3 linked regions of the Homo sapiens genome follow. The protein of the gene in region 1 interacts with the protein of each later gene in a biochemical or structural test. Each region holds a gene or a part of one and is shown in the gene's direction. Other genes may lie near its edges. The genes, in order: STIP1, ACVR1 and CLCN1.

The links.
Region 2: the proteins of STIP1 (region 1) and ACVR1 form a complex in vitro, tested with the Homo sapiens proteins (one study listed by BioGRID).
Region 3: the proteins of STIP1 (region 1) and CLCN1 form a complex in vitro, tested with the Homo sapiens proteins (one study listed by BioGRID).

The regions. Positions count from the first base shown.
Region 1 is NC_000011.10:64,199,582-64,203,232, forward strand, and holds part of STIP1 (stress-induced-phosphoprotein 1), read left to right. Parts: intron 1-358; coding exon 359-455; intron 456-587; coding exon 588-712; intron 713-3,294; coding exon 3,295-3,331; intron 3,332-3,543; coding exon 3,544-3,647; intron 3,648-3,651. UniProt on the Homo sapiens protein: Acts as a co-chaperone for HSP90AA1. Mediates the association of the molecular chaperones HSPA8/HSC70 and HSP90.
Region 2 is NC_000002.12:157,869,823-157,873,473, reverse strand, and holds part of ACVR1 (activin receptor type-1 precursor), read left to right. Parts: intron 1-3,651. UniProt on the Homo sapiens protein: Bone morphogenetic protein (BMP) type I receptor that is involved in a wide variety of biological processes, including bone, heart, cartilage, nervous, and reproductive system development and regulation.
Region 3 is NC_000007.14:143,329,564-143,333,214, forward strand, and holds part of CLCN1 (chloride channel protein 1), read left to right. Parts: intron 1-1,208; coding exon 1,209-1,334; intron 1,335-1,668; coding exon 1,669-1,753; intron 1,754-1,987; coding exon 1,988-2,089; intron 2,090-2,855; coding exon 2,856-2,940; intron 2,941-3,160; coding exon 3,161-3,310; intron 3,311-3,651. UniProt on the Homo sapiens protein: Voltage-gated chloride channel involved in skeletal muscle excitability.

The DNA.
Region 1 (3,651 bases):
AGATGGAGTCTCGCTCTGTCACCCAGGCTGGAGTGCAGTGGCGCGATCTCGGCTCACTGCAAGCTTCCGCCTCCCGGGTTCACGCCATTCTCCTGCCTCAGTCTCCCGAGTAGCTGGGACTACAGGCTCCCGCCACCACACCAGGCTAATTTTTTATATTTTTAGTAGAGACAGGGTTTCACCATGTTAGCCAGGATGGTCTCGATCTCCTGACCTCGTGATCCACCCGCCTCGGCCTCCCAAAGTGCTGGGATCACAGGCGTGAGCCACCGCGCCCGGCCCCTAATGTGATTTTTAAGCCCAATATTTAGATGATTATGAGCGTTTAAATTATTATTTCAAGAATTATGTTTTGTAGGCAGAGAAAATCCTGAAGGAGCAAGAGCGGCTGGCCTACATAAACCCCGACCTGGCTTTGGAGGAGAAGAACAAAGGCAACGAGTGTTTTCAGAAAGGTACTGCCTGCAGCTGGGGGATTGGGGGAGCAGTGCTGGGTGTGCCTCCCGTGCCTGGCTGTGGGGTAAATGGCCGGCTACACATGGGGGCTTTTTGCTTTTTAAAAGACAGTCTTTGTTTTTCTTCCCCAGGGGACTATCCCCAGGCCATGAAGCATTATACAGAAGCCATCAAAAGGAACCCGAAAGATGCCAAATTATACAGCAATCGAGCTGCCTGCTACACCAAACTCCTGGAGTTCCAGCTGGCACTCAAGGTGACGAGACCTGTGGGGGCGGCCATTACTGAAAGCCTGCACATGAGGAGTGGGTTTTCTCTCTCTCTCCTCATCAACATTGAGTTGATGATGATCATGATGTTTGAGACAGTGTCTCACTCTGTCCTGCCTCAGCCTCCTGAGGAGCTAGGACCACAGGCTCATGCCTCCACATCCTGCTACATTTTTTATTTTTTTTGTAGAGTTGGGGTCTTGCTGTGTTGCCCAGATTTATAGGGGTGTGTGTGTGTATGTGTGTGTGCGTGTGTAAAATATGGGACCTGTATCTAACTGGTCGTGTGTGTGTGTGTGTGTGTGTGTGTGTGTGTGTGTGTAAAATATGGGACCTGTATCTATCTAACTGGTCCTGGTCCATGGAGTCACTACTGGTTGGCAGTACATTGGAAGGTGGGTCCTTTCACCCCTGTAACCTTCCTCTTTTTTCTTTGTTTTTGCCTTTTTAACCATTTTTAAGAAGTGGAATTGCTGGGTCATGTGGTGTCTGTGTTTACTTTTTTTGTTGGTTTGTTTGAGACAGTCTCACTCAGCTGCCCACACTGGAGTGCCGTGGCACAATCTCGGCTCACTGCAACCACCATCTCCCGGGTATTTTAGTAGAAACGGGGTTTTACCATGTTGGCCAGGCTGGCCTTGAATTCCTGACTTCAGGTGATCCACCCGCCTCAGCCTCCCAAAGTGCTAGGATTACAAGCGTGAACCACCACGCTTGGCCCCCTTTTTTTAAAAAAAAAAAAAAAAAAAGACAAGGTCTGGCTCTATCGCCCAGGCTGGCTGGAGTACAGTGGCACAATCTCAGCTCACTGCAACCTCTACTTCCCTGGCTTAAACCATCCTCCCACCTCAGCCTCCTGAGTAGCTGGGACTACAGGTGTGCACCACTGTACCCAGCTAATTTTTGTATTTTTTATAGAGACAGGGTTTCACCATGTTTTCCCAGGCTGGTCTCAAACTCCTGGGCTCAAGCGAGCCTCCTGCCTTGGACTCCCAAAGTGCTGGGATTACAGGCATGAGCCACTGCGCCCGGCCTATGTTTTATTTTTGAGGAACCACCATATGTTTTTCAGCAGCTGTACCATCCTTGCTTGCTTTTCTGTTTTGCTCAGCTAGGTAGGTCTGCTGTTCTCAGTCATATCAAGTTAGGTCAAATACAATTGTTTGACACTGTGGAGTTCCCATAATCCTCTCGAATCTCAGCCACCCTGCCTCTATCAGCAGTTTTTTTTGACTGTTCTCTAGCTGACAAACCTGGACCGTATTGTGGGAAGGTGACAAAGTGTGACCTGTCTAGAAACAGCCATACCTGGGTTTGTGTTGGTTTTTATATTTTGTGCCACTGTCTTCTGGGTCTGTGTCTTGGCCTAGAGACATCATTTCTACTAGTAGGATTGTGCAAGAGTCATGTCAAAAGCATATTGATTTGTGAGGCAAAGAATAGCAGGTTGTCAATCACCTGGGAGGTGGGCAGTACTTTCCCGATCATGAGAGCGTGGAGAAAGAATGAATGGGATTTCTGCTGCTGTCCCAGCTTCTTGGTGCAAGAGTTGGAATTAATTCCAGGGGAGCTCAGTGTACTGCATAGTGTTCTCTTCCTCATCATTTCTCACTTTGAAGATGTTTCAAAGAGAAGAATACATAGTGAATATCTGGTGTATCTTCCACCTTTATCTGACAAATGTTGACCTGTTTTTGCTGAACTGTTTGCGAAAGGAAATTGTATACATTTGGTACTTAGAATGAGACATCCAAGTCTTGTGCACGCATTGCCTGAAAAGACTCCTGTCCAGTGCAGCACTGTCAGCACACGCGACCTCACCAGACCAAGGCCTGATGCCATCTGCCGTCTGTCCATCCATACTTAGACTTGCCCACTTCTCCAAAAATATGTTTTAAAACTGAGGTTTTTTTATTTTTGTTTGTTTGTTTTTATTTTTTTTTGAGACAGAGTTTCACTCTTGTTGCCCAGGCTGGAGTGCAATGGCGTGATCTTGGCTCACTGCAACCTCTGCCTCCTGGATTCAAGCGATTCTCTTGCCTCAGTCTCTTGAGTAGCTGGGATTATTACAGGTGCAGCCACCAGGCCAGCAAATTTTTTTTTTTTTTTTTTTTTTTTTTTAGTAGAGATGGGGTTTCACCATGTTGGCCAGGCTGGTGTCAAACTCCTGACCTCAGGTGATCCACCCACCTTGGCCTTCCAGAGTGCTGGGATTACAGGCATGAGCCACCGCACCCAGCGTTGTTTTGTTTTTTAGTCAGCAATGGTTTTGGATTCCAAAGCTCTCAGGACCAAGGCCCACGCATTTTGTCTAGTTGTCATGTACTCTTCAGTTTCTCAAACTGGAATTGTCCCCCGCTATGTGTTTTTCATAACATCAGCCTCTTGCAGAGTCCAGGCAGTTTGTCTTGTGTGGGATGATCCATCATCTGGAGTTGTCTTTCCTGATGTTGTCCCCTCTGTTTGGTGCTGGGTGAGGCATTAGAGTTGGAAGTCCACATGCTTGAGTTGCCTGTACTGAGCTTGTCCAAGGGAATGAGCCTAATTTCTTTCTGTTGCTTCATTCTAGGACTGTGAGGAATGTATCCAGCTGGAGCCGACCTTCAGTAAGTGCCTTTCTGCTGCCTGTCCCCTGTCTCTAGCCAAAAGATTAGAGAAGGAAAGGGCAAGCCCTTTGTCTACCTGTGTGTCCTTGGGACCTGTAGGATTTAGGATCCAACATCAGCAGGTGTGAACAGTGTTGGTGTGCAGGTGAAGAGGTGCAAGGAGCAGCCTTGGGCGCTGCGGTTGGATAACGCGCCACCTTTCCTGTTTGTAGTCAAGGGTTATACACGGAAAGCCGCTGCGCTGGAAGCGATGAAGGACTACACCAAAGCCATGGATGTGTACCAGAAGGCGCTAGACCTGGACTCCAGCTGTAAGGTGG
Region 2 (3,651 bases), on another chromosome or scaffold:
ATTCTGGAGAAGCAAACCACTGATGGTGGCAAAACTCTTTGATATGTTTGGGTGGCTTTAATGACAGGATAGTTTAGGGGTGCTGGATATGTGCTAGGCACTGGGCTCAGCTCTTCACAGGTACTTTTTCATGACATTTCCACAAACACCATATGTCTTATTATTATTTTACCGTCCTACAATAAGAAATTGAGGCTTGGCAAATTTCAGTGGTAGAATGGGGATTTGAACCAGAGGTCTGCAGGACTTCAGAACTCATGTTCTTGGCCACTTTTGCCAGTGATTGTCAAAGTTCATTCACTCACATACTGTCTTCCTGAGTTTACCATGGCTGAGTCCCACTTACTCTATTAATATTTTTCTTTAAAGCAATGATTCACTTAAAGAAAAGAACCTAAAGACATCATTTTTTTGAGAGGAAATTATGTATTACTACCATATTTGGAAAGCCAACTCACTTGTTAGGAATAGGAGGTAGTCATAAATATGCGTTTGTACTTGCACCGAAACCCCAACTTCAGAATAATGATTATGTGGAGTGTGTGTATGTTGCAGGGACCTGGAATAAAAATGGAGGAAGTAGGTAGATGATACAGTGTTGGTGATGTTCTGGTTTTTGGATTGGGTGATGGGTTCATAGGTGCTGATTTTATTTTTAGACTTTATAACCTACATACACAATACATTTTTTCTAAAATGATAAAGAAAATTAAACACATAACCATTAACATAATGATTACTTAGGGAATATTTTACTGCACTATGCTGACTATAGATTTAGCTTGGTGCCTTGTTTGCAGTGGGCACACAGTAACTACTGGCTGATCGATAAGACCCCAGGAAATAATTGTAAAGCAAGCTCATTGTTTGTTATATTTGAATAAGGTTGAGGTATGTCCCCCTCCTCCCCTATTTTCTCCTGCTTCTACTCTCCTTTCCAATATTGCAACTAAATAGTGTGGGCTGCAGTGAGGTTTCACCTGGCTGTAGTTATGGGAGACACAGGCTGGGCTGAAGCTAGCACTTTTCAGCATCACCTTGTCTTATATATCTAGCACTTGGGATGGGGCAAAGAATACTGTCATGAAGTGTTAAGACACCTTCCTTTTTACCCAGTAGTAAGGTGTGACCATTCAGAGCTGGAAGCAGTATTTAAGTTAAAGCAGGGCCTGGATGAAATGTTAACAACATTAAACTGGTGAGGCTGGGAAATAAAGCCATCAGAAATTTTAATTGGAATCCGCAGAATCTCCTGTTTTATTTTCCCAAGCAAGCACCGGGCACTGTGGCTTTATTCCTGGAAATGAGGATTTGGAATTGGGTTTCCTGGTACAAAATACCTTCTTTGATCTTTTGGAGTGAAAACTTTGTGTTTCTTTCTGTGGCCAATTCCAGCTCTCAGAAGAACCAAATGGAAGATTTACCTCCTCATTTTTAGCAGTTGGCCATAGAATGCTCTTGCTTGCCATGTTAAGTTTAAGAATCAGAAGTTCTAAACTAGGGTTTGTCTGTTGGAAGGACATTCAAATGAAAGACTCCTTTTGAAAGAGCCTCATCAGTTTGGTGTGGTTGGCACATCACAGCCTTTGGTTCAGATGGGAGGTAGTTTTGCTTGAACTCACACTCTCAAAATTAACTAATAAGATATTCGGCAGCTTCCTTTTCTGAGTTAACACAAATACACCCTCTGCCCCTAATATTCAAACTAACCACACATTCGAATACTATTCCTGTGCGCTTCTAGGCAGTTCTGGAAATGTGAGATTGTTTATATGTATAAAGGCTCTTATGTGATCCATCAGAGCTTTGTTTTCCAGAGCCACGGCTATTCAGTTGTTTGATTTTTGGGTTTCACTCTCTGACCAACATTCCACTTTGCCCATTAGAGTTACTTCATTGTTGACTCTGGGTATTTGGCCTTTATTTCTGTGACTGGGAAAGTAACTTTAAATTTCAGTCTTCCTAAATTTTGTGGAGGTTTGTGCAGTAGGTGAAAGTTGTTTTGAAGAGGGGGATGGGGTGAGACCACTTTTAGCATAAGTGTCCTGAGGGATCACCCAAGGTCAGTTCTCATTCATCTTGAGGCCAAACCCTGGCTGTTCTGGTCTCTGCATTGCCCCTCACTCCCCTCCTTTTTGGGGGACCCAGATTCTTCAAGGCTCAGAGTAATCTTACTGCAAGCAAGAATGCTTTCTGGATTTTGCCATTTTGCCTTTCGACAGTCTCCTAGGTTTTATCATCCCCATTTCTTATTCTGGGATGTGATTGATCTCTTTGAGGGCAAGGACTTCAAGTTGTTCATTCCTCCATTGATTCTTTCTACACAAGTCATTGCTCTTCACCAACTTAAAACCTTTCAAATTCTCTCCCTGGGCTCCTTGAGGCAAGGGACTGTCTTATTCATCTTTTGTGTAACTTTTGCACCTAACACAATGCCTGGCCTAGACCACACAGTCAATAAATTGTTTTTGAATTGCCGAGAGAATGAATGGATGATTGCATATTAAGGGAGCAAAGGGACCTAGTCTTCTAGGGAACCAGGGAGATTGCTGACAAGATGATACCAGTCACTGTGGTCCGTAAGGATGAGTTTGGAAAGTGGGGACGAAAGACATTCTATGTAGAAGGAACTGCTTTTGATACCTCTTCTCAGTGCTTAATGTTGTAACCTGTGCTTAGTCAATTCCACAAACATTTATTGTGTTCTTTTCAGCATATGTTTCTTTCTTTCTTTTTATATTTAAGAGTGATGCTTCCATTTTTGAGAAGAATATCTCACTAATTTTTTATATCCCACAGAGCAGGGAATCCTTCATTATTTATAGTTAGGACCCAGACACTCAGTGAATCAATTACTTTACTCTTGACTTTTTCCTGTTGCATATGTTTCCAAACAGTTGACAGTGAAAACGTAGTGGTGGGCCATGCTTATGTGAGAGGTGGAAAAATGTAGGTGACCTCTTTGGAAAATGGGTGGAATCCAAAGTAAACTCCTCTTTTGAGAGATTTTTAAGGGCTGAAATCAGTGGACATACCACATATAACTTTTCATCTTGAATACTTGATGGGTGTGTGCTTTTGCTCATCTATGAAAGCCAAGATTGGCTATTAATATCACCATGCCATCGAAAAGCAAGATTACTTTGATTTGGGGGATTCCGTTTTAGCCAGTTCTGGAAGAATATTGATAGGCCCTCCAAAATATAACCTTGAACTTTAGAAATGTACAGAGGGGAGAACGAAGGTGGGGTGATCTTGGGCAAAGTTGGATATTAGAAATGGGACGATACTTGAGAGTTTGGAACGTGGGTACTGAGGAAAATGTGCAATAAGAAGAACTTGAGAAAAAGCATTCTGGAATAGAAGGGATGGGTTGAGTGATGTTTTAAACCAAGTTCCGAAACTTCCACTATTGCAGCTATTGATGAGTGTTGGCTACGCTTGGGGTGAAAGTAAGATGTGCTTGATTTACTCTCTGTAAGTAGTGAGTTAATGCATATAAGCAAACATGACCATAAAGGCAGGAGCTTAGGGATGAATATCCCTTGTCTTGATGTCAGGGACTTACACAAGATAGAAATATGCATAGGAGTGAAAGTGTAGGTGGTTATCTAGAGTGACACCTTCCTTTTCAGGAGTAAGGGACACATG
Region 3 (3,651 bases), on another chromosome or scaffold:
TGGTCCTGGGGGATTCAAGAGATGTGGCCTTTGAATATAGCACAGGGAGAAGAAAATTACTAGGATGCGAGGTGCTGCCTGAAGAGGGCGTTCACCCTGTTCACATGGAGAGAAAGGGGACAAACCTGCCTAGTTCAAGGTTTCCTGAGGCCAGGCCTCATCTCCATTCATCCAATTATGTGCGTGGTTGCATTTCCCTGGTTCCTTTTCCTCGTTTTTGATAAAGATGAGGCTTAGCCAGGTTTTAGGTAATTTTGTCATCAATTTTTACTTTGCATCAGATTAAAGTCCACCCCCCCTTATTCTTAATATGTTGAAATATTTTTTTCTTTGCCTCTCTTGAGTGTTGCTTTTTACGCCCTCACTCGCATTCCTTACTTTGTCCCTACCAACCCTTGCTCTTTTTCTGTAGATCTACCCCCTCAATTTCTGCTCCAGCACCTACGCTCAGAAACAGTACTACTTAGAACTACTACTTAGCTTTCCTTTTGCCTCACCCACCTTTCTTAAGCATGATTGTTTTTCTCTTCTTCTAGCCTCTTGGTTTTTCCCCTTGCGTTGGTCCTTTTAAGTCGGGTTTTTAGTATTAGTTTATTATTATTATTATTTGTATGACTCCTCTACCTTCTTTTCTTGAACTATCGAGGATGGTCAGCTCCTGCAAAGCCCCCTCCTATTTTTGTTCTGTCTTCCTTATAAGGTTGCCCCAGGGTACATGGTATATGTAGAACGGTAGGAAAGTCCAGAGGAGGGTGTTAAGGAGAGTCCCTGTAAATCCTGAGCTCTGCTTGGCAACTCTACTGAGGAACTGCTCTGGAACTTTCTCTCTCTTAACTTCTCTGCAGATTTTTTTCAACTACCTTTTAGTCCCTGTGGGTATCTGACAGTTGTGAACCCCATTCAACCCTACATTCTAAGGGATGCAGAGGGCACGGACACTTGGTCCTCATGTTTTGGAGGTTGAAGGCCCATTCGTTTTCAATCTTCTCTGTGTTGGACCCATCCCTTGTCTGAAATAAAAATAAAAAACTCCTAGCCTGAGCAGTTGTGTGGTTTTGAGCATGGGAATCCAAGAGATCATTACTTTCCACTACTGCTTCCACCCAGATTCATGTTTCAGCAAAAGCTCCTTAGGTCCAAGCAGTGGGGAGTGTGGGGGAGCACTTTCACTGCTGGCTGCCCCCAACCACACTTCTGTGCCCCTGCAGGAGTGCTATTTAGCATCGAGGTCACCTCCACCTACTTTGCTGTTCGGAACTACTGGAGAGGATTCTTTGCAGCCACGTTCAGCGCCTTTGTGTTTCGAGTGCTGGCAGTGTGGAACAAGGATGCTGGTAACCAAGGAGGCCTTGGGTGGAGGCCATGTGAAATAGAAAAGCTGGGAATGGGGTGCAGAGGAAAACTCTGTGGGGCAGTTCAGAAAAGGAATAATGGGCGGCATCATTTGTGGGGTGGGACCAAGGCCCAAGGGTGTATGACAAAGATATAGGTCATGGAGTGGGAGAGTATATCCATGGAGGAGTGTGCGTAGAAAAAAGGAAAATACATTCAAGAGGAGAAACTGGGATTGGAGGAAGGAAGGAATTAATCCTGAAAACTGCCCACCTCTGTTTCCCTGTTGGGTTTCTACGAAGCTCCCATCGTAATACTGGCCTTTCCATCCTACAGTCACCATCACTGCTCTGTTCAGAACCAATTTCCGAATGGATTTCCCCTTTGACCTGAAGGAACTACCAGCTTTTGCTGCCATCGGGTCAGTGGGGTTACCTGCTCTGTGTGTGGTGAGCAGGGTGTGGAGTGAGGCTGTAGATTGGAAGGGACCCAAGCTAGAAAGAAGGTGCGGTTGGCACAGATAGAGTACATTGCTGGGGGGATGTGGGCAGATAGGAAAGGCAGAAGCCTGGTATTTGTTTCCCTGCAGTAGTTATGTCCAAGAGATGAGGATTTCATGTCTGTAAGATTCCAACTCTATAAATTACACCCTCAGGATTTGCTGTGGGCTCCTGGGAGCTGTATTTGTGTATCTGCATCGCCAAGTCATGCTCGGTGTCCGAAAGCACAAGGCCCTCAGCCAGTTTCTTGCTAAGCAGTGAGTCACTGCCCTTCTTTTGCCCTACCCATTTACTTTCTGGTTTCTCCAAGAGTTCCTCCCTTTTTGTCTTTGGGGAAGGCATTAAATGCCTCTGGGTGGCTTGCATTAAAATATAAGGAAGCTCTGATATTGTGGTTAGGGGGTGAATTGTGTGGTCTCCCATTTAAAGATTATTTTTGTTTTTGTTTTTTGAGACAGAGTCTCACTCCATCACCCAGGCTGGAGTGCAGTGGTGCGATCTCAGCTCACTGTAACCTCTGCCTCCTGGGTTCAAGCGATTCTCATGCCTCAGCCTCCTGAGTAGTTGGGATTACAGACATGCACCAACACGACCAGCTAATTTTTGTATTTTTAGTAGAGATGGAGTTTCACCATGTTGCCCAGGCTGGTCTCGAACTTGTGACCTCAGGGGATCTACCCTCCTTGGCCTCCCAAAGTGCTGGGATTACAGGCATGCACCACCGTGCCTGGCTAATTTTTGTATTTTTAGTAGAGATGGGGTTTCACCATGTTGGCCAGGCTGGTCTTGAACTTGTGACCTAAGGTGATCTGCCCACCTTGGCCTCCCAAAGTGCCCCATGGGATTAGAGGCATGAGCCACCGCACTCGGCCTCAAATATTGGTTTTTTGTGTGAAGAGAATCTTTTTCATTTAAAGAAATGAGACTACGGTGGACTAAAGGAAACTTCAGCTTGCCATCGTTCAGTATGGTATTTACTGTGAGTTGGCTGAATTGTGGCGGTTAACTCTGTTTCTTTTTCAGCCGCCTGCTGTATCCTGGAATTGTTACCTTTGTCATTGCCTCATTCACCTTCCCACCAGGAATGGGTCAATTCATGGCTGGAGAGGTCAGCTGTTGGTGGGGCCACATGGTAAAGAGGAAACAGCACAGATATACCTCAGGCTTCAGAGCATAAGTAGTTTTGTCCAAGGATAGACTTTCTAGATTCTCCCTGAGAAAAGGGCAAAAGAGACCCTTGAATAATGAGGCTGGGGAATAAGTTCTCTAAAAAAGGAAGCACAGGAGTTCCCTGGAGAACCCACCCTTTCTGCTTCTTCCTCTCCCAGTTGATGCCCCGCGAAGCCATCAGTACTTTGTTTGACAACAATACATGGGTGAAACACGCGGGTGATCCTGAGAGCCTGGGCCAGTCAGCTGTGTGGATTCACCCCCGGGTCAACGTTGTCATCATCATCTTTCTCTTCTTCGTCATGAAGGTACTGCTCCTGACACTAGCAACACCCTAAACCTCCATCTGTTTTCAATCTATGAACCCAGGGTTTGCATAGGGTAGGAAGGGGTAGAACTTCATTTGGTCTTCATCCAACCTAAAAATAAGTCATTTGAAAACCATAGAGTTGGCCAGGCATGGTGGCTCACACCTGTAATCCCACCACTTTGGCAGGCTGAGGCAGGTGGATCACTTGATGCCAGGAGTTGGAGACCAACATAGCCAACATAGCGAAACCCCATCTCTACCAAAAATTCAAAAAACTTAGCCAGGCATGGTGGCGCATGCCTGTAATCCCAGCTACTGGGGAGGCTGACGCAGGAGAAT